Homo sapiens: one gene and its partners. The protein of the gene in region 1 interacts with the protein of each later gene in a pairwise test. Each region holds a gene or a part of one and is shown on either strand. Other genes may lie near its edges. The genes, in order: GRAMD1C, CD72 and CD151.

Region 1 (12,138 bases):
GCTTGAACCCAGGAGGAGGAGGTTGCAGTGAGCCGAGATCACACCACTGCATGCCAGCCTGGGTGACAGAGCCAGACTCTGTCTCAAAAAAATATGGGCCCATCGGGTAATTGCTCAAGTAAGATCACTCATCAGGCAGTTAAAAAAAGAAAAAAGCAAATATGGAATAGGGGAGTAAGGAGGAGTAGCCATTATAAAAGCATATGGGCCAGGCACAGTGACTCATGCCTATAATCCCAGCACTTTGGGAGGCTGAGGCAGGAGGACCTCTTGAGCCCAGGAGTTTGAGACCAGCCTGGGCAACATAGTGAGACCCCGTCTCTACAAAAAATATCAAAAAATTTGCCTGGCATGGTGGCATGCGCCTATTGTCCCAGTTGTTCAGGAGGCTGAGGTGGGAGGATTGCCTGAGCCTGGGAGGTCAAGACTGTAGTAAGCCATGATCAAGCTACAGCACTCCAGGCTGGCCGGCAAAGCAAAACCCTGTCTCAAACAAACAACAAGAACAAAAAAAAAAAAAAAAAAAAAAAAAACAGCTTATGGTGGACCAGGATCCTTAAATATCTCTGCTGCTGCTGCTCCACTTAAGCTTGAGGTTCTTTTTGTTTTGTTTTTTTTTTGAAACAGAGTCTCACTCTGTCGCCTAGGCTCGAGTGCAGTGGCGTGATCTCGGCTCACTGCAACCTCTACCTCCCGGGTTCAAGCGATTTTCCTGCCTCAGTCTCCCGAGTAGCTGGGATTACAAGCGTGCACCACCTCACCCGGCTAATTTTTGTATTTTTAGTAGAGATGGAGTTTCACCATGTTGGCCAGGCTGGTCACAAACTCCTGACCTCACGTGATCAGCCCACCTAAGCCTCCCAAAGTGCTAGGATTACAGGCGTGAGCCACTGCACCTGGCCAAACTTGAGGTTCTTAAACCCTATAAATAACCATTGCCATGGGGGAAGCCTCTAATCACAATGATACTGATTTGAGGCTCTCTAGAGAAAGAAATTTGTAAACATGAGAGGGTAGAGAAGACCTCCTCCACCTGAAGTATATCCAGTAACCTCCAAAAAGAGAGGGAGAAACCAACAAACCTGGATAGAAGGGGAGGAAACATACAACAGCAAAACAAAAACAAACAAAAAAAACTGAAACTGAAGTCCATAAACTGATCTAACAAAACATACAGAATTTAAAATAATTTACAGGATAAAAGATAAAAGACTGGCTTTTGTGCCTCTACAACATAGGTTCTAAGTTAACTTCAACATCAGCTAAAATGCGGCAATTGGCAAATCTTCATGGCTTTAATCAATATTGGGTCTCAAATTACAGTTATACCTAGAGTTCCCACTAAATTTAAACAAGGTATCCCCTACAATCTTAGGAGTTATTCAACATAAAATAGACAACAAATAGGTATGCCTCACTTTAACCATCAGAACTATACCTTTGCCTAAATACTCCACGATGGTGGTATACATTGCCCTGAAATATCCTATTGTGGCCATGGACACTCTGACACAATTAGTAATAAACTAAATTTAAATCAAGTCTTTAGAGCTTACAAATTGGCTTTCAAAGAAGTGGGACAACAGGCTGGGTATGTTGGCTCACACGTATAATCCCAACATTTTGGGAGACTGAGGCAGGAGGATCACTTCAGGCCAAGAGTATGGAGAACAAGCTGGGCAATACAGCAAGGCCCCCTCTCTACAAAAATTTAAAGATTAGCCTGGCATAGTGGTACACACATGTAGTCCTAGCTACTTGGGAGGCTGAGGTGGGAGGACTGCCAGAGTCCAAGAGTTGGAGATCACAGTAAGTTGTGATTGCACCATTGTGCTTCAGCCCAGGTGACAGAGCAAGACTCTGTCTCAAAATAAACAAAACAGTGAGACCCTATGGACCACCACTCTCAATGCCCAGTTAAAATTATACAACCCAATATAAAACAAAACAGGGCCTTCAAGGACTAAAACTTGTTATGTAAGACCTACTTCAGCCAGGCACGGTGGCTCACGCCATGCTGTAATCTCAGCACTTTGGGAGGGAAAGCCAGGTGGATCACGAGGTCAGGAGTTCAAGACCAGCCTGACCAACATGGTAAAACCCCATCTCAACTAAAACAAAATACAAAAATTAGCTGGGCGTGGTGGTACGTGCCTGTAATCCCAGCTACTTGGGAGGCTGAGGCAGGAGAATTGCTTGAACCCGGGAGGTGGAGGTTGCGGTGAGCTGAGATTGTGCCACTGCACTCCAGCCTGGGCGACAGAGCAAGACTCTGTCTCGCAAAAAAAAAAAAAAAAGAAAGAAAGAAAGAAGTACTTTGTGAAAGTAATTATCCCTACTGCTTCTCCATTTAACAGCCCAATTTGGCCTGTTAAATTTGGTAAGAATGAATGGTACCTCATGGTTCATTACTGCATCCTCGATGATGTCATTTTACCCAGGAAGGCCCCTATACTCAACATTGTTGAAATTACTGACTATCCAGTCCACAACTAGTAAATATTTTGCTGTGATAGATTTGGCTAATATGTTCTGTTCAGTGTCTCTTTCAACACCTCCTCAGCCATAGTTGGTCTTCACCTCCAGAGAGACATAACATCTCTTTACCAGGCTAACCATAGAGTACGCAGTCTTGCCATCATACACAGCCTTTACAGGAAAGATCTTAACTGCATCAAATTTTCTCCAGGAGCACAAGTATAACATTCCATTGATGACATCCTCCCCTGAGGACAGTCTTTTGACATACTCACAAAGGAGCTCACAAAAGGAGGATGGGCTATTGTGCCACACATAGTGTAAGGCCTACCACCTTGGTTAAATTTCTGAAAATAATTTGGTCTCTGTCACCCAGGCTGGAGTGCAATGGCACAAACAGGGGTCACTGCAGTCTCAACCTCCTGTGCTCAAGTGATCTTCCTATCTCAGCCTCCCAAATAGCTAGGACCACAGGCGCCACACAACCATGCCCAGTTAATTTTTCTTTCTTTTTTTTTTTTATTTTGGTAGATACAGGGTCTTGCTTTGTTGCCCAGGCTGGTCTCAAATTCCTGTCCTCAAGCGATACTTCTTTCTGCCTTGGCCTCCCAAAGTGCTAGAATTACAGGCATGAGCCACTGCACTGGGCCACAATGGCTGACTTAAATTCAAATTCAAATTCAAATGGTGCAGGTCAGTCATCAAACATCAAGGGTGAAAAAAAGACCTGGAGCCAGTTTTTTCCTGAGGCTCTCTTAAGCCATTTTAGTGCTGCTTGAGAGGCCTGCCTTGCTCTCCCTGGAGACCTTAATTATGTAAGTAAAAGACTTTTTCAGGGCCGGGCGCGGTGGTGGCTCAAGCCTGTTATCCCAGTACTTTGGGAGGCCGAGGCGGGCGGATCATGAGGTCAGGAGTTCAAGACCATCCTGGCTAACACGGTGAAACCCCGTCTCTACTAAAAACACAAAAAATTAGCCGGGCGTGGTGGCGGGCGCCTGTAGTTCCAGCTACTGGGGAGTCTGAGGCAGAAGAATGGCGTGAACCCGGGAGGCAGAGCTTGCAGTGAGCCGAGATTGCGCCACTGCACTCCAACCTCAGGGTGTGTGTGTGGCATCATCAGTTTCTACTCCAACCTCATGGTGTGTGTGTGGCATCATCAGTTTCTACACCTGAATCAAATTTGGGATGGGGGTCCATTCTGGCTTTCTGGGGTGGCTACAGTAGATTCCTGTCTCTCTGACTTATTAGCTGTGTGGTCCTTAGCAAAGTCAATCTCTGTACATCTGTTCCTTAACTCTACAATAGAGGAAATAATTTTATCTCTAGTCTAGACAATAAGCTTATTGAGAGCAGGGATCATGTCTGTGTTAATCACCATCTAATCCCGAACACCCAGTGCCAGGGACATAACTGAATCAGTGACTGATTGGGTTCATGAATATCCAGCTTGACTATTTCATAGTAATGTTTTTCAAATCAAGTGAAATAACACTCATTCATCTGTTCATTCAACAATTATTTGTGTACCTCCACTAATCTGTAAACTATAACGCTCTTCAGAAGATATAGCACTGACCGCAGTTCTCTAAAAGTAAAATACATACACACAAACCAATGTAGAAGGAGGATGGTGTTCAGAAACGCAGGCGCCCGTCCAACAAAAGCGGGGTTTCATCCTGAATATTAATAAGCACGCTTTCCGTTTTGTCAAATAAGGTAGTAAACAAATAAAACTAGACTAGTTGAAATCAAAAACTTGGCTGACAGCACAGTGATTTAAACTATCCGGACCTTTACAACAGGGCTGAGAATGAAAGGAAGGGGGCAAGGCTGGAAAAAACGTTGACAGTGGGTCAGAATCACGACCATGGGGCCTGACCCAAGGGGGCCTGGGGCTGAGACATCCGCACCAGGACATTTCGGGACCAAATTCAAGCCCTCAACGCCCACAGGGAAGCAAATGTCCCCACCACCGCCCGTAGGGAAAGGGCTCGCAGAGGCACAGGAAACCGTTTCCTCGGTAACAACTTTCCGTATTACTCCAAAGAGCACGAAGAAAAGGGAAGGGAGGGATTAACTGTAATCTGAGAAGGTTCAAGCAATCACCGTGAGAAAAAGTAGGCTAAAGCCACAGATGGGAACCTGCCCCAGCGAGGCCCGCGGCTTACCTGACGGACAGTCGGAGCGCCCTCCATCGCGGCTCCCTCCGCCGCCGCGGCACCGCCCCGCGCGCACCGCACCGCACCGCCCCGCGCCCACCTCCAGCGCGCGCTGCGAGTTACAGGCTCCGCGCGCCTCCTCCGCCGGCCCTCCGAGTACTTCCAGCCGCAGCTCCTTGCGCCCTCTGGCGGCCGTGAAGGATTCCTGACGATGGGTGTTACCGGGTTAGCCTGAAGGCTTGTCTTTCTAGGGGTCACAATGAGACTTCCCTATTCCCAACCTCAAACTACTGTGCCTCCCAGGAAATGGCATACCCTGCCCCAATGTGCGAAAAGGTGAATTGCTCGGAAACTTTTTTTTTTTTTTTTTGAGACGGAGTTTCGCTCTCATTCCTCAGGCTGGATGGAGTGCCAAGGCCCCGTCTCGGCTAACTGCAACCTCCGCCTCCCAGTTCAAGCGATTCTCCTGCCTCAGCCTCCCGAGTAGCTGTGGTTACAGGCGCCTGCCACCACGCCCGGATAATTTTTGTATTTTTAGTAGAGACAAGGTTTCACCATGTGGGTCAGGCTGGTCTCGAACTCCCCACCTCAGGCAATCCGCTGGCCTTGGCCTCCCAAAGTGCTGGGATTACAGGCGTCAGCCACCGCCCCCGGCCAGGAAACTCTTGTTCCTTCCAATAAAGGATTGAAGTTACTGATTAACTGCTGTACGTATTGCAGATTCTTGGTTCTGTAAACCAAAAATAAAATGCCGAGGCCCACCCCCAGCCATCTAAATGGACCCCTCCTCTTGGCCAAGAGCGTTCCAAATTTAACCTGAAAATCTAGTTCAGGCCATGATGAAAGAGGGGATTGGACATGCCTCATTAACATCAACACAGACCTTAAGTCTGAGAAGAAATATTTATCATCTATTGCCTCGGACACCTGCTACTTGGAGGCTGCATCTGCATGATAAAACCTTGGTATCCACAACCCCTTATCCTAACCCAGACATTCCTTTCTACTGATAATAACTCTTTTTTCTCTTTTTCTTTTGAGACAGGTTCTGGCTCTATTAGACCAGCTGGAGTGCGGTGGCGCAATCTCTGCTCACTGCAACCTCCACCTCCCGGACTCAACCAATCCTCCCACCTCAGCCTCTCGAGTAGCTGGGACTACTGGCGTGTGCCACCATGCTTAACTACTTTGTTTGTTTGTTTGTTTGTTTGTTTGTTTGTTTTTTGAGACAGGGTTTCGCCATGTTGCCCAGACTGGTCTCGAACTCCTGGACTCAAGCAGTCTGCCCCCTTCGGCCTCCCAAAGTGCTGGGATTACACGTGCAAGCCACAGCTCCCAGTCAATAATAACGCTTTCAACCAATTGCAAATCAGAAAATTTTTTTATGTACCAATGACCTGAAAGTTCCTCCTTCTCGCCTTGGAGCTGTCTCCCCTTCCAGATTGAAACAATGTAAATCTTACATGTATTGATTGATGTATTAGGTCTGCCCAAAATATATAAAAGCAAGCTGTACCCCAACCACCTTGGACACATGTCATTGGGACTTCCTGAGACTGTGTCACAGGTGTGTCCTTAACCTTCACAAAATAAATTTTCTAAATTAACTGAGGCCTGTCTCAGATATTTGGGGTTCAGAGTTCCCAACCAAACAGCTATAAAAAAGACATTCTAAGCCAGGCACAGTGGCTAACTCATGTAATTCCAGCACTTTGGGAGACTAAGGTGGGAGGGTTGCTTGTGTCCAGGAGTTCAAGACCAGCCTGGGCAAAACAGGGGGGCCCCATCTCCAGAAAAGAGAGACAGAGAGAGAGAAAGAAAGAGAGAGAGAGGGAAGGAAGGAAGGAAGGAAAGAAGGAAGGAAGGGAGGGAGGGAAGACATTCTAGAACAATTGAGGAATAGTGAATATGAAATGGCTATTAGAGTTGATGTTACAGGATAATTAATGATTTATGTATACATTTATGGATATTCATTTATGGATAATTAATAATTTTTGGCAGCTGGGCGTGGTGGCTCAAGCCTGTAATCCCAGCACTTTGGGAGGCTGAGGTGGGAGGATCACCTGAGGTCAGGAGTTTGAGACCAACCTGGCCAACATGGTGAAACCCTGTCTCTACTAAAAATACAAAAATTAGTCGGGCGTGATGGTGAGCACCTGTAATCTCAGCTACTTGGGAGGCTGAGGCAGGAGAATCGCTTGAACCTGGAAAGTGGAGGCTGCAGGGAGCCGAGATCAGGCCATTGCACTCCAGCCTGGGCAAGAAGAGTGAAACTCCGTCTCAAATAATAATAATAAATAATAATAATAATAATAACTTGTGGCTATGTTGCAGGGTGTCTTTAATATTAGAAAACTCACACTAAAATATTTAGGAGTTCCCTGTTATCCATGGGGATGTAAAAAAAAAAAAGTATTTAGGAGTGAAGTAGCACCATGTCTGCAACTTGCTTCCAAATGCTTCCACGAAGATGAATACACAGAGAAAACAAAATAGCGAAACGTTAATTATTGGACCTAAGTGGAGGGTATACTACTATTCAGTTATTCTTTTACTGTTTACATATATTTAAAAATCATAATGTAAAGTTGAAGAGATGGAAAGGAGTTGAATCCAGTTCCACAAAATGTCAGACACTGAGTGTATTTCTTTTTTGTTTTGTTTTGTTTTTGTTTTTTTGAGACAGAGTCTCGTTCTGTCCCCCAGACTGGAGTGCAGTGGCACAATCTTGACTCACTGTAACCTCTGCCTCCCAGGTTTAAGCAATTCTCCTGCCTCAGCCTCCTGAGTAGCTGGGACTACAGGCGCCCACCACCATGCCCGGCTAATTTTTGTATTTTTAGTAGAGATGGGCTTTCACCATGTTGGCCAGGCTGGTCTCAAATTCCTGGCCTCAAGTGATCCACCCGCCACAACCTCCCAAAGTGCTGAGATTACAGGCGTGAGCCACTGCACCTGGCCATGAGCATATTTCTTAAATATATATGACATACTAAAGGACAAATTACTTAATAAGATAATCAGTAAAAGACAGGTTTCCATCCTCATTCTGCAAAACTTTGCATAAACTGTGTTCTGTTAAACATAAAAAACGTCACAGAACACTAATATTAAGCAAGGCCACTGTATGATCATGATAGAGTAAGACAAAAAGAAGGCCACTGGGTAATCATGTCTAAACACAGACAAAAATGTGAACATCGTTCGAAACACAGAAATGACTATGTCCCTATGCTGACTAATATGACTGACTGCTGCCTTTTTCCCAATAACAGCTTTAGCTTCACTTTATTCCACCTACCTTCTAGATAAGATGTATTAAGATACCCAATCAGAATAACCACATCTTATTGACAATATGTAATCTGGGACAAAGCTCCACTTCTTGAATCCTCCTCGCAAAATCACTGAACACAAACCCAAATCCTGTAGTAAGACCTTTCTAACACCCTTTCACTGAGATGTCCTCATGGTTCTCCATGGTATTTTTTCACCCTCATTGCAATGAGTCAATAAACACAATGTTGTCTAACTACAGCTATGGTTCTCCTGGACTTTGGCTGAAGAGCATTGATATATTTTGCAGTGAAATAGAACATAAGGTGAAAGTGAATATGGAAGAAAAGTTGTTAGAAGTTTGAAGAGAAAGGAGAAATTATGAAATACTTAGGAGCACAGGTGAATGAACTGACTAATGTTTTAGGAAAACAGTAAAACAGTAGCATTGCTGGGCAACACAAATGCCTCATTGAGATTAATGGTCATGTATTTAAAGTGAGATCACACTAATATGTAAACAGCTCCCAGAAATCCCTGCTTACCACAATCAGGGGAATGCTTAATTAGGAGATTAATGGTCATGTATTTAAAGTGAGATCACACTAATATGTAAACAGCTCCCAGAAAAACATATGGAAAAACCATAGTCAAGTTAAAATTGTTAAAGTATATGTCAGAAAGTTCATGGAAAAGGAAATATCAGTGTCTTTTTTTTTTTTTTTTTGAGACGGAGTTTCACTTTTGTCACCAGGCTAGAGTGCAATGGCACGACCTCAGTTCACTGCAAACTCCACCTCCTGTGTTCAAGCGATTCTCCTGTCCCAGCCTCTGGAGTAGCTGGGATAACAGGTGCCCACCACCACGCCCAGCTAATTTTTTTTTTTTTTTTTTTAGTAGAGACAGAGTTTCACCATGCTGATCAGGCTCGTCTCGAACTCCTGACCTCATGATCCACCCTCCTTGGGCTTCCAAAGTGCTGGGATTACAGGTGTAAGCCACCGTGCCTGGGCAAATGTCTCTTAAAAATATAAAAGATCCTCAGTTTCACTCAGAATAGCATAGAAATTAAAACCACACTGAAATACTATTTTTCACTTACTAGTTTGACAAAAAGTACAGAAATTTGAAAACGCATTCTGCTGACAAGACCGTGGGGATACAGGACTCTTATAATGGAAGTGTAGAGGCTGGGTGCGGTGGCTCATGCCTGTAATCCCAGCACTTCAGGAGACCAAGGCAGGTGGATCCTTTGAGGTCAGGAGTTCGAGACCAGCCTGACCATCATGGTGAAACCCTGTCTCTACTAAAATGCAAAAATTAGCCAGGCGTGGTGGCAGGCGCCTGTAATCCCAGCTACTTGGGAGGCTGAGGCAGGAAAATCGCTTGAACCCAGGAGGCGGAAGTTGCAGTGAGCCAAGATTGCACCACTACACTCCAGCCTGGGTGACAGGGTGAGACTCTGTCTCAAAATAATAATAATAATAATGGAGGTGTAAAGTAATATAGCGAATTTGGCAATAGCTTCAAAAATTACAAAATGCATATACTCTTCAGCAGTACCAACTTCTGCAATTTTTCCTATAGATTTAATTGCACACATGCAAAATAATCCAAAGTTATTCCTAGAAGAATAGTTGGTAGTAAAAATTGAAAACAAATCATCATCAATAAAGGACTGGTTAAATAAATGACAAACCTCCATCCATTAGAATTTGGAATTCTGTGCAGTTTCATAATAATTTTTAAAAGAATGAGGAGGAGCAACATCAACGAAAATGGCAGAGTGGGGAACTTCAAAAGTCTGTACTTCCACAAAAGCAACAAAAAAGGTGGCAAGAGCTGTCAGAAACAATTTATTTGGAAATCTGGAATGTCACCAAAACCTTACCACAATCAGGGGAATGCTTAATTAAGAAAAAACAGCTGAGTCTCAGTAAAAGACTTTTGTGACATTTTATTTTAACTTACCCTGGTACCATCCCCTACTCTACAATAGCCCACATTCCTGGTACTGATTCGTAGTATCAGAGGTAGCAGTACAGACCTTATTCTCGAAGAATTGTTATCTGTTTGCTTTGACCTGTTTGGTGGCTCCCTGAAGGCTCAAGGACTTGTTTGCCTTATTTTATCTCAGAACTCTTCCAAGGGTAGGACACCTGCCTTGGGCAGGTGTTGGTGGGGGAATGTTGGTAGAGGGGGCAGGTAGAGTATTTATTGAAAACATTTGGGCCGGGCATGGTGGCTCACGCCTGTAATCTCAGCACTTTGGAAGGCTGAGGGGGCAGATCACCTGAGGTTGGGAGTTCGAGACCAGCCTGACCAACATGGAGAAACCCCATCTCTACTAAAAATACAAAAATTAGCTGGGCGTGGTGGTACAAGCCTGTAATCCCAGCTACTTGGGAGGCTGAGGCAGGAGAATTGCTTGAACCCAGGAGGCAGAGGTTGCAGTGAGCCAAGACAGCACTATTGCACTCCAGCCTGGGAAACAAGAGCAAAACTCGTCACACACACACACGCACACACACAAAAAAAAAAAAAAAGAAAGAAAGAAAGAAAGAAAAGAAAAGAAAAAATTTGAAGGCAAATATATTACCAGTATCACTTGGGGCAAGGGATAACAGTTCAGGCAAACAATGGACAATCTGAATAAGGGCTTTGAAAAACTCTCACAAATTCCTGGGAATCCAGAAGGCCACATCCATGCCCAAAGCTGGGAACATGCTCAGAAAAGACCTAAGAAGGCCCTAAACTTCCACCTCTGGCTGACTTTTTGCTCGGCTAAGGCAGAGATATAAACTGCCTGGCTGGGTGTTACAGGCATACCCAGCACACACAGAAAGCCAGTCTGCAAAGACTGGAAGATAATTGCTTGTTTCTGTATGTATTTTTCTTCCTCGGTTTTTATTTTTTTCTAATCTGACAGAACAGAGACTTATGTGGCCACATAAAACAAAGAATACAAACTTTACAAAATTAGTTTGACTTGTATGAGGTACCTAGAGTAGTCAAATTCATAGAGAAAGGAAGTAGAATGGTGGTTTCCAGGGGCTATGAAGAGGGCAGAATGGGGCTTTATTTAACTGGTTCAAAGTTTCAGTTTGGGGTGAAGAAAAAGTTCTGGAGATGTGATCATTACACAATATAAATGCACGTAATGTCACTGAACCATACTTGAAATGGATAAAATGGTTAATTTTATCTTGTGTATATTTTACCATAACATAAAAAAGTAGTTTATAAAAGATACTAACAAACCACAAATAAATGCTAAAATAAGCAGCAACAGTAAAACCTGGGGAGGTGTACAACCTGATTTTCAAAGTTGCTGCATTATGCCAGGCACAGTGGCTCATGCCTGTAATCCCAGCACTTTGGGAGGCTGAGGCAGGTGGATCACCTGAGGTCAGGAGTTCAAGACCAACCGGGCCAACATGGTGAAACCCTATCTCTACTAAAAACACAAAAATTAGCCAGGCCTGGTGGTGGGTGCCTGTAGTTCGTGAGGCTGAGGCACGAGACTCTCTTGAACTGGGGAAATGGAGGCTGCAATGAATCGAGATCACACCACTGCACACTGCACTCCAGCCTGAGCGACAGAGTAAGACTCTGTCTCAAAAAAAACAAAGTTGCTGCATTATAATATTCAAAATGTCCAGTTTTCAACAAAAAATTATAAGGTACACAAAGAAACAAGACAGTTTGACCCATATACAGAGAAAAATAATAGAAACAGCCCCTAATGAAGCCTGAGCATTAGGCAAACAAAACTTTAAATCAACTATTTCATATATGCTCAAAGAGCTAAAAGAAATCAAATTCAAAAGAGACCCATGAGAACAATGTCTCACCTAATGAAGAATATCAATAAAGAGATATAAATTACAAAAGGAACCACATAGAAACTCTGGAGCTGAAAAATACAATAACTGAAATGAGAAATTCACTAGAGTAATTCAAATAGACTTGAGCAGACAGAGGAACAAATCAGCAACTTGAAGGTGGGTCAATTGGGATTATTCAGTCTGAGGAGCAGAAAGAAAAAAAAGTGAAGAAAAATGAACAGAACCCATAAGACCTGTAAGACACTGCCAAGTAGACCAACATATACAAAATGGGAATTCCAGGAGAGAAGAAAGAAAGAATATTTGAAGAAGTAATGGCCAAGAAAGAATGAGGAAACTCTTTATGCACTGATATATAAAGATCTACAAAAAAT
Region 2 (12,205 bases), on another chromosome or scaffold:
TGGGAGGTCTGTCTTAATAGGGCTGATTTTATTACCCCAATTTCTGAACAATTGCAGTCCACCCTGACACTTTACCTAACATCTCTTGGGCCCATCTCCTCCACTCCCTAAAGCACCCCTCACTGCACATCCTCCACTCCTCCAGCACTGGCCCCCTCCGTCCCTCTCCAATTTCCTACAAGCAGAAAATGTTGTGTACTGTTTTGCAGAAACTGAGCTCTCTCCTTTTCCCTCCTCTCCACCTCAAAATTTCTCTTCTCTGTTCTTCTTTTCCTGACTATCCATAAGAAATAAATATCCCTCTTTCTTCAACATCCTACATCCCAATGTGCACTTCTGATCCCAGGCCACCTCTCTCCATTGCTTTGTTCCATCAGTCCTACCTTCATCACTCAAAAATCATTCCCTCTCCACTAGCTCCCTCTCTTCTCTCTACATATGCTCATGTCCCCACCCTGCTACTCCCTTGAGCTACTGTCCTATGGCAACTTAAAGGAATAAAAAGAAATCCCTGCTGGGCACAATGGCTCACTTCTGTAATCCCAGCACTTTGGGAGGCCGAGGCGGGGTGGATCACCTGAAGTCAGGAGTTTAAGACCAGCCTGGTCAACATGGTGAAACCCCACCTCTACTAAAAATACCAAAAAATACCCAGGCACCATGGCGCATGCCTATAATCCCAGTTACTCGGGAGGCTGAGGCAAAAGGATAGCTTGAATCCAGGAGGCAGAGGTTGCAGTGAGCCCAGATCACACCACTGCACTCCAGCCTGGGAGTGCACTTCAGTCTCACAGAGCGAGACTCCGCCTCAAAAAAAAAAAAAAAGAAATCTGTATGGCCAAATGGAAGAGGGTGAGGAGATAAGTGGCACACTGAAAGGTAGGCAGGAGTGATGGAAGCCATGTTAAGGATTTTTATTTTTATATTATGAGGAAGAGAAAGTCAGTGTAGGGTTTTACATAGAGGAATTTTGTTCACTAGCTATATCCCAAGTGCCTGGGCACAGTGCTAGAACATATTATATGTTATGTATTCCATAACTGTTTATGTAATCAATTAACTGGAATGCTGTAGATTGGGTGACACGATCAGATTTTTGTTTGTAAAAGATTACCCTGGCTCCAATATGAAGAATGGACTGCAGGGAGAGGAGTGAGTAGGAAAAACATTTAGAAAGCTGTTGCAGATATCCTTGCAAAAGATGAGGATGGGCAAAAATCCATATGGATATATAGACTTGGTGATGGAAAGTGAAGGGAATTCCTCTCTGAAAGAGTGGAAGATGAGGACATCTGCTGAAAGTGAGGGAGAAGGAGTTACTATGGAGAGCAAGCTGACCATTGCAAAGGTTGCCAGGCAGTGCTGAGAGACTAGAGTCTCAGTGGCACTGAGCAGAATGATTCCACAATTTGTCACACCTTGATGCTGACCATGGGCAGTTGGGTTCATCCAGAGTTCAAATTTTGCCCATCAGGTACACTAGAAGGATAATGGAACAAAGAAGTGAGTGAGCCAGGTGCGGTGGCTCACGACTGTAATCTCAGCACTTTGGGAGGCTGAGGCAGGAGGATCGCTTGAGTCCAGGAGTTCGATACCGGCCAGGGAAACATAGTGAGACCTTGTCTCTATTTAAAAAAATAAGTGAGTAGTTGAAGTGATGGGCTCCAAACCCATGTTAGGTAGGGAGAGAAGTGTGGACAGGAGAAGCTGATGGGAAGAGAGAAAAAGGGGAATCAGTTGATTGGAGGCCTGGACTGATGGGAAGGGAGAAAAAGGGGAGTCAGCAGATTGGAGGCCTTGATGAGATCAAAAAAGTGTGGGGAAAACCTGCAGGAGTGGTGGGCAGCTGTGATCAGAGTGGAAGTCTGAAACCATCCTTTCGCCGGAAGAGCAATTTGGGAGGTAGAGGTCTAACATGCTGCTAAGAGCAGCCCTGGCATGGAACTGATGGTCACAGAGGGTAAGGTTAAGGAAATGAGGGCAAGGGGTGTCTGCACATAATCTTGCTGTCTTATGCCTGGGGAGATCACCCAGATGACCCCCAAGCTAGACAGAGCCTAAACCTGATCATAGCCCAAAAACACCCCAGTCCCCTTAGGCGTGGCACCTTGCCTAGACCCTCAGCCTGTTTTGATACAGCCTTGCCTCTTTTATGTGTCCCTTTCCCCATCTCCACTTACTGGCTGGGGTCCTGCTTTCAAAATGAATGGACACCCCATCCTAGTTCCCTACACCACAACTCCCAGCTCCACCTCACTGTGAGTGCTGAGCGCCTCACTGCCTTGCCCCACCACCAGGTTGCACTCCATGTCAGCCAGTAAGTCTTACCCTTTGGGGAGATCTCAGCTATAACGAAAATTAATTAAAAATGAGGTCCCTGTCTTTAGAAAGATGTGCAAACCGCCAAGTTCACATCCAAATTTGGGGGCGTTCCCAGATCCTTGTCACTGATATCAACCGGAAGAAACCTTGGACAGTGTGATTTGGACTGCTGGCTGCCATCCTCCTCTCCCCTACAGGATGAGCCTTGGAGCTGGGTGGGTCCCCCTAAATCTAGTATGCAGCTTGGTCCTTCTCTCTGTTGGCCAAGGCTGAACAGCTCATGTCAGCCACCACTCTGGTTCACTGCCCCTTTCCTGAACACCTCACAGGCCCCTGGGTGATAGACTCCTGCCACTACTATCTCCTTGCTCCAATCCATCCCTCCCTTCTCTCCTCTCCCCAGAGCGGATACCTGCTGAGCCGCATGTGAAGAAGGGCTTCAGTCTGTTCTCCATGTTGCTCAGCTTCTGCTCCAAGGCCCTCCTCTGTTGCTCCTCACTTTGCAAGGTCTCCTTCGTCTTCTGTCTGTCTGCCTGGCAGGCCTGTAGCTGCCCTTCGGCCGCCTGATGAGCCCTCTGTTCCACCTGTAGTGCTTCCTGACTCTGCGCCAGCTCTCTCCTGGACCCCTGCAGATCCTCTGCACTCTGTCCCAGCTGCGTTATCTTGAGGCGGAGCTGCTGCCTCAGGCTGCTGTTAGTGACTTCCAGAACCCTGTTCGTCTGCTGGAGCTGCTGAGACACCTGCAGATCTGTTTGGCCACAGAGATTTGGTGGATGTCTTCTCCAGCCCTGCCCTAGTGCCCTGAGACTGCAGCATCAGCCCTTTTTCTGCTTCTTGCAACTTTTTGCATCACAGGCTGAAATACAAGATTTGACTGACTAAAGCGTAAGGAGGTACTGGATTAGGTGAGGACAATTCAGGAAGACAACAGCCCTGGCTGGAAACCAAACCCAAAGCTAAGGAGGTGGTGGTAGTGACTATGATCCCTGCTGAGGAAGATCAGCTTTGGGGCGAGAGTCGGGACGAAAGTCGTTCGGTGTAAGTGGGAAGTAGGGACAGCCTTACTCACAGCGCACTCCCAGGCAGATGGCGGTCACTCCTAACAGCAGGCAGGTGAGGAGCAGGCCGAGCAGGAGGTATCGCAGGCAGGTTGTGCGGCCTTAGGGGGACAGTGGGATGGATGAGGGCAGTCAGCCCCCGTAAAGAATGTAGAGAGGAAGGGACAGGTCCGTGGGGGAGACCCCTGGGGAAGGCATCCCTAAGAGGAGGGCGGTGCAGAGCTGAGGGGGCAAGCATGGTGGTTTCTGTCGGGTAGCGGGGTGTTTCGCAGGTAGGGGAGAGGGTGTTCCAGAATCAGTGCTGGTGGGGACTCGGGGGCGTTACCTGGGAGAAGGGGAAGGAAATATCAGACGGAGAGAGGGGAAGGGGGGCAGGTAGGTGAATTGGGACCATCCGCAGGGGGGCGGTGCACGTCGGATTCAGGCGCACCGGATGAAGGTGAATGTGGCACGGCAGCCCGGGCGTCGGAAGGACTGCGCCCGGGTTTATCCCGGAAGGAGCTGCACCCCGCGGGGCCCAGCGCCATCCGCAGCCGGGACAGGCGCGAGCACTTGGCCCCGCGGCTGCCCCGCACAGGCACACTCACAGGGGAGAATCCGCCCGACAGCTGGTGACGTCACGGCTCTCCAGGACGCAGTTGGCTGCTCCGACTTGACCGCTGTCGAGGGGAGCATCCAGTGTGAGACCGGAAGCCCCGAGTGTTGCCCCTTCTCCTCCTGCGCACCCGCTTCGCCCTCGCCACTGGGAAACTCCAGTCTGCCCTACGTTGCCTGCTAGAGCTGCTCTGGGACACAGTGTCACTCTCCTGAGTTCCTCCTCTGCCCGGGACTCTCTCGGCTTCCTCCTGGGTCTCACTGTATCTTTTCCCGGGACCCCCTCATCTCTCCTAGTTCTCCCTTTATCGTTTCCTCAGAGGCCCCTTATCTGTCGGCTCCAAACCCTCTCCCCCTTTGCTCTCATCCATCTCCCATCACCTCTTTTCCCTCCCATGGCTCCCCGTTTCCCATTAGAACTCATCCCCCACAGGGCTGCCCTATCCCTCCGCAGCCCTTATCTCCCCGAAAGGGGTCTCCACCTTGCGGGAGGAATCTTTCTTCCTCCCCTGGCTCCCATTTATCCTGTTCCTATTCTTCTGTTTCCTAAGAACCGCCCTCCTCCTTTCCCCAGGGTATTGTGCTCTCAAGAATACTGAGGGCCATGGCATGGGGGCGCACGCCTGCAATCCCAACACTTTGGGAGGCCAGGGCAGGAGGATCACTTGAGCCCAGGAGGTCGAGGCTGCAGTGAGCCATGATCACACCACTGCACTCCAGCCTGAGTGACAGAACAAGACCCTGTCTCAAGAACAACAACAAAAACATTGTGGACTCCCCAGCTCAAGACACAGCCCCCCAACAAACACACATCCCCCAGGCTCTCCAGACCTGCTTTGTCCCCTAGTACAGAAGAAGCCAAGCTTGAGGGCACCCCTAGGACTGCGGGCACTTGAACATTCTCGTAGGTGATTTCCCCATCATCATCAGCCCCTGGGTCTAGAGAGAAGAGAAAAGGGACCAAGGTGGGATTTGGGAATGGGATCTGTGGGGCGGGAAGTGGGGATGCAGGATCAAGGGGAGGCCTCATCCCCCTTACCCTGTCCTAACCGGCTGGAGATGCTCTTCTTCAGGGGAGCCTTCACAAACCTCAGATCTGCATAGGTGATGGCCTCAGCCATGGTCCTGAGCAGCTCTGCCCCCACTCGTCTTCCCTGTCATCCACTGTCCTCCCTTGCCCCTCTCGTCTCTGTCCGTTTACAACTAGGCTCTGTGTTCCCTCTGTGACTGCACGGCTTAGCAATTGGCCCTGTGACTTCCAGTCACAAAAGAGGAAGGTGTTAGCAAGTCTCAAACAGATGGGCTCAATGAAGCAGAAGGCATCCCTGGGCCAGGGCCAGAGGGGCCACGGAGGGGACGCTGAGGTCCAGAACACAGGGGTAGGGGATGGGCCTGTCCCCATGTCCTCCCTGTGCTTCCTCTCCATGCATCTTAAACCCATATGGGCCATGCTGGGCCCCAAACTCGGTCCTTCTGGTTATCTGCCCTGATCTGCCCCACCCTCCTCCTGGCTGCCTTGTCCACTGGGGCTTATGATGTGTAGCTGGAGCTGCACTGACCCAGACGATCTCCCCAGCTCCAGGGTGAGGCTCCGTTCTCCCCATGAGACTGGGGGTTCCTGGTTTGCATCCCTCGCTTCTCATCATCCTGGGGGTTCCAGTAACTGGGGGTTCAGGAACAGGCCTGGGCCAGAGGTGAAGGTAAGGAAGAGCCATGGCTGCAGCACCTCTGGAAAGGCAAGTGGCAGCACTGCCCCCCATGCACCCTCATGGGGAGCCAGGGAGCAGGTGAGCAAGGGAGTTGCAGAGGGCTTAAGAAGGCTGCAGCTTCCTAGGTGAAGTCAAGGCAGAGGAGCAGAACAGAGCCAGAGGCCGAGCGCAGATTCCGGACCAGCGGAGGTCTTGACATTTTCTTGGTTTGGTTTTGGTTCGTCTCTTACTTTCCTAGCAAAGTTCTTTCTTTAAAAAGTCCCAAAGCTGTCCCTTCCCACCCAGCCCCAAGGAAAAAGGGGGCATTTGTGGCGGAGGACCCAGGGACCGCGAGGCCCTCATAGGTGGTGGGGGCCTGGCTGATGGAGGAGAGAGGGAACCAGTTGGGGGAAAGGGGGCTGCTGAGCAGGGGTGCCCAAAGGTGCTCCCTAATGTTCTTTTACCGGGATGTGACCCCTACTAGGAACCCCAAAATGGCCTACATCCGGGATAGGAAGGAGCTAGAACAAGATGTAGTGTGGGGGTGGGAAGAACCCGCCCCTAGCAAAGTGACATCCGCCCCGCAGAATCCCCCTCCTGCAGCTGTGGGGAGGAAAAAGGAAGGGGGAAAAGGTCCTCACCACATGCCAACAGCTCGGATGATTGGTGGTGTGTGGCAGGACACTGCCAGGGACCCTAGAGCTCTGCCAATAGCTCCGCCCAGCCAGCCCTAGAGGAAGTGGCCACTGAGGCAAAGCTGTGACCTCAAAAATGTACTTGTAGAGAGGCACGTGTGCATGTGTGTGCATGGATATGCATGTTCCCAGGACTTTGCAGTCTGTTAGGGCATCTGTGAGGTGAGCGGCTATGTCAGAGCCTGCCTGGAGGAGGAAGCCTTCTGTGGGCTGAAGGCTGCCTGTGATCACTGTTATTTTCCATGGCAGAGAATGACGGGTCATTTTCAGAAAAGTCGTCAAAGGTCATCACAAGAGATCCTACAAGTATTTCCTTTTTGAAGCTCACTGTTTCCTAAGGTGCCTCTGCAGCTGTTAACTGTCCTTGCTTGATTAAAGTTTCCAACAACCTAGACCTTCCCCCAGATACAGAGAGTGGTATGTGGTGGTGACTCCCTGGGGACCTCAGGGGCCCTGAGAGTGAGTGGGAGGGTATAGAGCAGCTGGTGGCAGGGGTGGGTGGGGTGGGAAGAGTCAAATACTTGAACCTGTGGTGTACAGGGGGTGGGTGTGGGCAGTGTGTGAGTAAATCAATTGCAGGAACATTTGCAGGAGTTCCACAAACTGTAGAATGTCCCAGTTTTCAGATCCAATACACAGGTGAACATGATGTAGATGCCAGGTAAAATGCCAAAACCAAGCTTCTAGTCTGCACTCAAAAAGGTGTCTGTGGCCAACATAGTGAAACCCCGTCTCTACTACAAAATACAAAAAAATTAGCCTGGTGTGGTGGCTCGAACCTGTAGTCCCAGCTACTCAGGAGGCTGAGGCAGGAGAATCGCTTGAACCCAGGAGGTGGAGGTTGCAGTGAGCCAAGATCACACCATTGCACTCCAGCCTAGGCAACAAGAGCAAAGCTCCATCTCCAAAAAAAAAAAAAAAAATGGAATACATGGGCTTGCTGCCTAACTTGACCTGTAGAGAGGCTTAAGAAGGGGATCTCCTGGCCGGCATGGTGGCTCACACCTGTAATCCCAGCACTTTGGGAGGCTGAGGTGGGCGGATCACCTGAGGTCAGGAATTTGAGACTAGCCTGGCAAACATGGTGAAATCCCATCTGTATTAAAAATACAAAATTAGCTGAGAATGGTGGCATGTGCCTGTAATTCCAGCTACTAGGGAGGCTGAGAATTGCTTGAACCCGGGAGGCAGAGGTTGCAGTGAGCCGAGATTGTGCCCATCCTGGGCCACAGAGTGAGACTCTGTCTCCAAAAATAAAAAAAAATAAAAAAAAGAAGGGGATCCCCAGATGGAACTGCACACCGCAATATCTTGAATGTCTTAACCAGGCTTGTTCTATATTTTTCTCCTCTTTAGCTCTTTTGGTGATGGTTACATATCTTTTCATCACAGGCCGCATTCGCTTCTGTCTTAGACCAGCTTGTAGCCTTCCTTTGTGAACAGGGTAAGAGAGTAGGATCCTTCCCCTTCCCCACGTGTGTCACTTGGGGTCTTTACAGTTTTGACATTCACATTACATTTAGAGGCTGGACATCAGAAAAGATACCTGTAACTCCAAGCTGTACCTCTACTGCCCAAATATCAGGGAACTTTTAAGAGGTGAGGGGTCAGTGCTGTACATTTCAGCTTTTCCAGAACCATACTATCATCATCTGAGAGCCTGGAGGGCAGACACTAACACCCATGTTTTGCCCTCTCCTGGCCTCCCCACTACTCATTACAGGGAATGGGTGTTTACGGTTGACAAGAGGAGGGGGCCCAACCATGAGGGCATCAGATAGAATTTGCCATGTGGAAGGGGGCTCACCTGATCAACTTTGTGTCATTGATACAGTCTATGTCAGGACATCGGGAGCATCTCCTAAGACTCTGAAAGTCAGGCTATATCTGTCTTCATTACTTTAACCCACTGGCCTCCGGGAAGCCCTAGTTTACTGACAGGGTGTGGTAGCCAGAATAATGGCCTCCCAAAAATGTTCACACCCGAATCCCCAGAACCTGTGACTATGTCACTTTACCTGACAAAATGTAGATGTGGCTATGTTAATCAAGGTCCTTTAGATAGAGAGATTATCCTGTTTTATCTTGGTAGGCACACTCTGATCACATGAGTCCTTGAAAGGGAGAACCTTTCCCATCATGGGAAGAAAGAGATTCGGTGAGGGAAGGAGGGCCAGAGAGACGCCACAGGAGAAACACTCAACCCATAGGTCCTGATTTTGAAGGTGCAGGAAGAGGACCTTGAGCCAAGGAATGCAAGAAGCCTCTGAGAGCTGGAAAAGGCAAGGAAGCAGATTTTCCCCTTCAGCATCCAGAAAGGAACCAGCCCTGCAGACACCTTGACTTTAGCCCAGTGAGACCTGTGTCGACCTGATCTCCACAACTGTAAGACAATAAATTTGTATTGTTTAAGCCACCAAGTGTGTAATTTATTAGAGCAGCAAGAGTTTCGTGAACTGTGGAGGAAGCATGATGTAATAGAAAGAATAGGGAGACTCTGGTTAAAGAGACCAGCCTTGCCACAGTATGTGACTTTGGGCAAGTGACAGTTTTCCATCTGTAAAATACAAGATAGTCTGACCTCAATCAAGAGTATGATTGCTGGAGACACACTAGGTGTGGACTTTACAAACGCCTCTTTAAAATCTGTCACAAAGGCTTCAGAGTCAGGAGGGAGAAAAATGGGCCACCTGATTGCACCATGAGGGAGACTTGGATTTCTTTGATCACTGAAGCCAAAGAGTACAGATAGGTCTTCGGTGACTTGCCCCAGGCCTCTCCTTGGTCCTGCCTCAAATGGTGACACAGAAAGCACGTTCTCTGTGCTTAATGGCACAGAGCTGAAAAGCAAATACATCAAAAGGCCAACTCAAGATTCAAGCCTTGCAACAAGGCAAAATGATGGCTCCAAACCACAGAATGAAATGTCATAAAAATAATAACAGCAGGCCAGGCACGATGGCTCACGCCTGTTATCCCTTGGGAAGCCAAGGTGCACAGATCACAAGGTCAGAATTTCGAGACCAGCCTGGCCAATATGGTGAAACCCCGTCTCTACTAATAATACAAAAATTAGCCGGGCATGGCGGCGCACACCTGTAGTCCCAGCTACCCAGGAGGCTGAAGCAAAAGAATCGCTTAAACCCGGGAGGCAGAGGTTGCAGTGAGCCAAGGTGGTGCCACTGCACTCCAGCCTGGGTGACAGAGCGAGACTCTGTCTCAAAAAAAATAATAATAATAATAATAATAATAACAGCAAAGTCAGGCACAATGGCTCATGCCTATAATCCCAAGACTTTGGGAAGCTGAGGTGGGAGGATCACTTGGGCCTAGGAATTCGAGACCAGACTGGCCAACACAGCGAGACTCCATCTCTACAAAAAATTTAAAAATTAGGCAGGTGTGATGGCACATGCTTATGGTCTCAGCTTCTTGGGAGGCTGAGTGGGGAGGATTGTTTGAGCCCAGGAGGGCGAGGCTGCTGTCAGCCATGTTTGTGCCACTGCACTCTGGCCTGGGCAGCAGTGAAACCCTCCCTCAAAAAATAAATGAATCAAAATTAAAATAAAAAAAAGATAATACAGCAAGCATTTATTGAAAAATGAAATTTGGAATTCAAAAAATAAATTGCATAAGCATAGGATGGAGGGAGTCCTGGGTTAACAATTGTTTATGTAACAAAGTTTGAGGAGAAAGGCAGTTATTATTTTACACTTGAAGGGATCTTAGAGAGCCCAGCCTGCTTATTTTACAAATTGGGAAACTGGACTCAGCAGGCTGTAAGCGCCTTATAAACTGACCCAGTGACTGGAAAGAAGCTTGTGACAAAAGGCTGCCACATAGAACTGTAGCCCCCTTACCAAATACATCTAACATTGTGCCAGCCACACCTATAGCCCTTTTTTTTTGTTTTGTTTTTTACTTTGTGTTTTTTATCCCATACTTAAATACTACCTATAGCCCTTTTTAAGCAGGCAAACCCCTGCTGATGAGGCAGCCCTAGTCCCCAGAAATTGTGTCTTGTGACCTCCAACCCCTTTGACCTCAGCTGATTAAAATTAGCAAGCGAGGCCTGGCGCAGTGGCTCACACCTATAATCCCAGCTCTTTGGGAGGCCGAGGCAGGCGGATCACCTGAGGTCAGGAGTTCAAGACCAGCCTGGCCAACATGGCGAAACCCCGTCTCTACTAAAAATACAAAATTAGCTGGGCATAGTGGTACATGCGTAATCCCAGCTACTCAGGAGGCTGAGGCAAGAGAATAGCTTGAACCCAGGAGGCGGAGCTTGCAGTGAGCCGAGATTCCACCACTGCACTCCAGCCTGGGTGACAGAGCAAGACTCCGTCTCAGAAAAAAATGGGTTAAAAAGACAAATTTATAAAGGCCAGGCCCAGTGGCTCACGCCTGTAATCCCAGCACTTTGGGAGGCTGAAGTCGGTGGATCACGACCAGCCTGACCAACACGATGAAACCCCATCTCTACTAAAAATACAAAAATTAGCTGGGCGTGGTGGCACATGCCTGTAATCCCAGCTACTCGGGAGGCTGAGGCAGGAGAATCACTTGAACCTGGGAGGCGGAGGTTGCAGTGAGCCAAGATCACACCACTGCACTCCAGCCTGGGCGACAAAGGGAGACTCTGTCTCAAAAATAATAATAATAATAATAATAATAATAATAATAATAATAATAATAATAAATTTAATTTAATAAAAATATAAAATGAGCAAGTGGGCCTCTGCCTAAGGCTGGCCAGTCCATGGACAAGCCAGCGACCTGGACATCAGGATGAGTTTATCAAATGCCAATTTTCAGGAATTTAAGTGGGAAAATATGGAGATGACCACTGAGTTGGCAGTGGGAGTTAAAGATGAAAGGATGTATAGAGAGCATCTACCTTGACCCACAGAATTCTCCATACCTAGCGATCGTGCCTGGCTACTCCTAGCTCACATACTTAGTGGGGAGCGATTACCCTGGCAGAGGTGACTGAACCTGATTGCCTGATTATCATGAGGGGTTAGGGCTGCTGCTACATACTGTAGGAATGTCCAGGCACACCTCATTTTATTGCACTTCACTTATTACGCTTCACAGATACTGAGTTTTTTACAGGTTGAAGGTTTATGGCAACCCTGTGGCAAGCAAGTCTACTGGTGCCATTTTCCAACAGCACGTGCTCACTTCGTGTCTCTGTGTCATCACATTTTGGTAATTCTTAAAATATTTCAAACTTTTTTCATTATTATTGTATCTGTTATGGAGATCTGTGATCAGTGATTTTTGATGTTAATATTGTCATTGTTTTGGAGCACCATGAACCATACCTATAAGACATTGAACTTAATAAAAGTTGTGTGTGTTCTGACTGCTCCACTGACTGGCTATTCCCTGTCTTGCTCCCTCTCCTTGGGTCTCTCTATTCCCTGAGACACAACAATCTTAAAATTAGGACAGTTAATAACCCTACAATGGTCTCTAAGTGTACAAGTGAAAGGAAGAGTTGCACATCTCTCACTTTACATCAAAAGCCAGAAAGGATTAAGGTTAGTGAGGAAGGCATGTCCAAAGCCAAGATAGGCCAAAAGCTAGGCCTCTTATGCCAGTTAGCCAAGTTGCAAATGCAAAGGAAAAGTTCTTGAAGGAAATTAAAAGAGCTACTCCAGTGAACACAGAAATGATAAGAAAGCAAAACAGTCTTATTGCTGATATGGAGAGCGTTTGAGTGGTCTGGATAGAAGATCAAACCAGCTACAACATTCTCTTAAGCCAAAGCCTAATCCAGAGCAAGACCCTAACTCTCTTCAATTCTCTGGAGGCTGAGAGAATTGAGGAGGCTGCAGAAGAA
Region 3 (3,538 bases), on another chromosome or scaffold:
GCCCTAAGGAGGCCCTGCTGTCCAGGCAGTGCTGCCAGCAAGCACCCCAGGTCAGATGTCCCTGCTGCCCAGATATCTGGCGTGGTGTCCTCTGGTAGGGGAGAACGGGTCTGCCTGAGGGTCTACAGTTCTGAGCCTTAAGGACAGGAACCTGGGCAGTGGGGGGCACAATCAGTGACCGAGCCCTGGCTCCCATCTCCAGGGTACCTCTGCCAGACACCAGGCTCTGGTACCTCCTACCCTCTGGCCCCCAGCAGGGCCTATAGGCTCCTCCATGTAAACCCCCTCACCCTACTGCCCCCACCCCACCTGCCTGACACCTCTTACCTGGGCACGGCCCCCAGTCTGCACCCTTCCCACGTCTGCTCCCCACCATGGCCAGAAGGGTTTTGGAAACCATTTTTCCTCTCCCCCAGGGGCTCTGAACACACCATCTCACCATTTAGGAACATGTTCAGTTCTTTCTGCTGAGGCCTGTGCTCAGCTGTCCCTGGCATCAGACCTCCCTTCCCTGGAGCCCCATGGGGGGTGTGTCCTCCTGGCTCTGCCCTTCTTTGTCCTGACACTGGGCGGGGCGGGGGTGGGTCTGTCTGCCCTGCTGGATGCGAGGGCCCTGAGAACAGACCACCATCTGTTACCAGCACAGCGAGCTCGTCCATCTGCTCTACAAGTGTTTATTGAGCACCTGTATGTGGCAGGGATGGTTGTAGGCATCTGGGTACAGCAGTGAACAAAACCAGGAAGGCCCTGCCCCGCAGAGGCACATGAACAGGGCAGTGCACAGTGACCACGTGGCATTTCGGGTGGTGGTGACTGCGGTGGGGAAGACAGCAGGGGCGCTGTCGAGGGAGACGAGGGCTGGGTTGGGAGGGGCAGAGGCCCAGGCCCAAGGGTCAGAGCTCACCTGGCTTCCCCAACTGGGATGGGGCCATGTGGCTGCAAGGCAAGGCCCCAGTTCCTGAAGGGCCTGGGGTGTGAAGGGTTTCTCCCCCTGCTGGGAACGCTCGGCCTTGCGCCACTCAGCAAGGCCCCTTCCAACCTGCATCTGACCACCAGGCAGAGAGTGTGTCTGGGGAGCCCCACAAAACACCCCCCAAACTTCGCCCCGCCAGCCCCCCTCACCTCCCCTGCTGGGCATTGGTGCGCAGCAAAAGGCACTTGAAGCTGCCTCTGAGGTTGGGGTCCCCAGAGGTTATGGTGATGGCACAGGGTGGGTGTCATCAGGGAGCCCAGCCCCTGGTACTCAGTGGTCTCAGCTCAGTAGTTGGGTGCAGCAGCAGCAAGGCCCAAGGCAGGGTCAGTAGTGCTCCAGCTTGAGACTCCTGTACAGGCAGCACGTGAAGATCATGCCAAAGACCTGTGTGCAGAGCCGGGTGGGCGTAAGCAGACGTCATGGGGCCACCAGCCACCGCCCTGCCCCGTGTCCCCAACAAGATGACCGCCACCCCCATGTGCCCTCACCTGCACACAGGCAATGCCGATCCCCACAGCCCCAATGACCCTCAGGTGCTCCTGGATGAAGGTCTCCAACTTGGTGATGCAGCCGCCCTGCGGGGCGCGGATGGGTGTTGAAGGCGGGCCCAGGGGGCACCTCCCACTGGCCCCTACTGCCTCCAGCCTCCAGGGTGTGGCCAAACCCACCCCTAGCACCTAGGCAGCCAGGCCACCAACAGCTCAGCCAGCCACTGGGCTGCCCACCCACTTCCTCGTAGATATTGGAGGTGTGGTCTCACTGCCCACATCCGGCCACTGGGGTGACCCCCCACCTCCTGGTAGATATTGGAGGCGTGTCCCACTGCCCACAGCCAGTCACTGGGGTGCCCCCCCACCACCTCGTAGACACTGGAGGCATGATCCCGCTGCACACCCACCTCCACCTTGTAGATGTTGGAGGCATGGTCTCGCTGCCCACAAAGAGCCACCACCGTCTTGCAGCAGCTGTCTGGGACCACACGGCCACCGGCCTCCTGTGAGCGGATCCACTCACTGTCTCGCCAGTCCTGTGAGTTGTTGCTGCCACAGCAGTGGAACTGCATCAAGAACAAGGCTGGGGTTGAGACCTGGGGCCAGAGGCTCCTGCAGAGGTCCAGGGAGGCCCTGGGGATGCACGCGCCCTCCCAGCACCACCCACCCACCTCCTGCTGCAGCTGGTCCACAGCGCTGGTCACAGCCTCATGGCCCGGCTGGTGGTAGCGCTTGGTCATGGTGTCCTTCAGGTTCTCCTTGAGCTCCGTGTTCAGCTGGGGTTGGGGTGCAGGAAACTTCAGCCTCAGTCTAAGACCTTCCAAGGTGGGGCTGGCAGAGCCCCAGGATGGCCGGTGGGGAGGCCCGGGGCCCAGCTCAGAGCCACAGGGAAGGGCTGAGGTCACACCTCGGCATGAGGGGAGGTTGGGTGGTGCCAGGACCGTCACCAGGGTGACAATGAAGTGCGGCAGAGGCAGAGAGAGCTTCTGGATCCCCTGGACACCTGCCTGACCCCATGTGCCCCTGCAGAGACCTAGACCCCATCTCCAGGGCCCAGTGGCACATTGGTTAGCTCTGGGACCATGGGGGTGGGGGTTGGGGCTAGCCACGCGTGTGCATGTGTGTGTGTCCGCCCCGCCTGTGCATGTCTGTGTCTCTGAATGGCCTGCCCAGGCCCCTCACCTGCTGGTAGTAGGCGTAGGCGAGGATACCAGCGATGATCTCCAGCAGAAAGATGATGAGGAGCAGGATGAAGTACTGGGGGGGGCAGCACAAGGGCACCCTTGTTCTGAGGCCTAGTGCCTAGACCTAGTGCACCTCAGAGCAGAGTCCCCACCCCGGCTCCCCAGGCTCCAGGTGGGGGCTGAGGGGCGGCCACCCTCCCTGAAGCTTTCTTGCGGAGCTGGTGTCTTCCCTCAGCTGGTCCAGCAGGAACGTGGGGACCCACAGGACTAGGCAGGTGTGGAAGGACCGTGACCCCCCCCCCAGGTGAGCACAGCAAGGCACAGGTTCAAAGCCTGCAGCGACAACCTCCTTGGGCCCATCTGCACCACCCCCACCCCGTGGCCCTGCGCCCTCCTGACCAGGCGCAGCAGGTTCCGACGCTCCTTGAAGGTGGCGCAGCAGCCCAAGACCCCAGTCACCATGACGACAGTGCCCGCCACCACCAGGATGTAGGCTGTGGCCAGGTAGGTGCCTGAGGCCAGCAGGCTGATGTAGTCACTCTTGAGGGCCAGCGTCCAGATGCCCACTGCCATGACAGCCAGGCCAGCCAGCTACAAGCAGTACACAAAGGTCATCGCATCTGCCCAGGTCTGATGGTGGCCCGGGAGGGGTGGGGGTGGGGGTGGGGGCAAGGCGACCCCTCCTCACCCAGAAGCAGCAATTGTAGGTAAACAGCAGGTACTTGAGGCAAACGGTGCCACATGTTGTCTTCTTCTCGTTGAACTCACCCATCCTGGGGCTGAGGAGGCAGGGGAGGGGTCAGCGGGGCCACAGCACCGGGCCCCTGACTGGGAGACGGATAGGAGGGGACACAGGGCCAGGCGCGGTGGCTCACGCCTGTAATCCCAGC

What was found.
Region 2: the proteins of GRAMD1C (region 1) and CD72 interact in binary tests that used the Homo sapiens proteins (3 or more experiments, as listed by UniProt).
Region 3: the proteins of GRAMD1C (region 1) and CD151 interact in binary tests that used the Homo sapiens proteins (3 or more experiments, as listed by UniProt).

What each region holds. Positions count from the first base shown.
Region 1 is NC_000003.12:113,831,445-113,843,582, reverse strand, and holds the start of GRAMD1C (protein Aster-C), read right to left. Parts: upstream 4,796-12,138; 5' UTR 4,674-4,795; coding exon 4,647-4,673; intron 1-4,646. UniProt on the Homo sapiens protein: Cholesterol transporter that mediates non-vesicular transport of cholesterol from the plasma membrane (PM) to the endoplasmic reticulum (ER).
Region 2 is NC_000009.12:35,613,209-35,625,413, forward strand, and holds the start of CD72 (B-cell differentiation antigen CD72), read right to left. Parts: upstream 5,206-12,205; 5' UTR 5,096-5,205; coding exon 5,014-5,095; intron 4,914-5,013; coding exon 4,806-4,913; intron 4,040-4,805; coding exon 3,968-4,039; intron 3,482-3,967; coding exon 3,392-3,481; intron 3,179-3,391; coding exon of another isoform or gene 3,138-3,178; exon of another isoform or gene 3,071-3,137; coding exon 2,735-3,070; intron 1-2,734. UniProt on the Homo sapiens protein: Co-receptor of B cell receptor (BCR) that plays both positive and negative roles on B-cell functions. Recognizes the Sm/ribonucleoprotein (RNP) self-antigen ligand, and coligation of CD72 and BCR inhibits BCR signaling.
Region 3 is NC_000011.10:835,952-839,489, reverse strand, and holds the end of CD151 (CD151 antigen), read right to left. Parts: intron 3,428-3,538; 5' UTR 3,421-3,427; coding exon 3,337-3,420; intron 3,240-3,336; coding exon 3,048-3,239; intron 2,722-3,047; coding exon 2,647-2,721; intron 2,241-2,646; coding exon 2,136-2,240; intron 2,031-2,135; coding exon 1,872-2,030; intron 1,549-1,871; coding exon 1,462-1,548; intron 1,358-1,461; coding exon 1,298-1,357; 3' UTR 659-1,297; downstream 1-658. UniProt on the Homo sapiens protein: Structural component of specialized membrane microdomains known as tetraspanin-enriched microdomains (TERMs), which act as platforms for receptor clustering and signaling.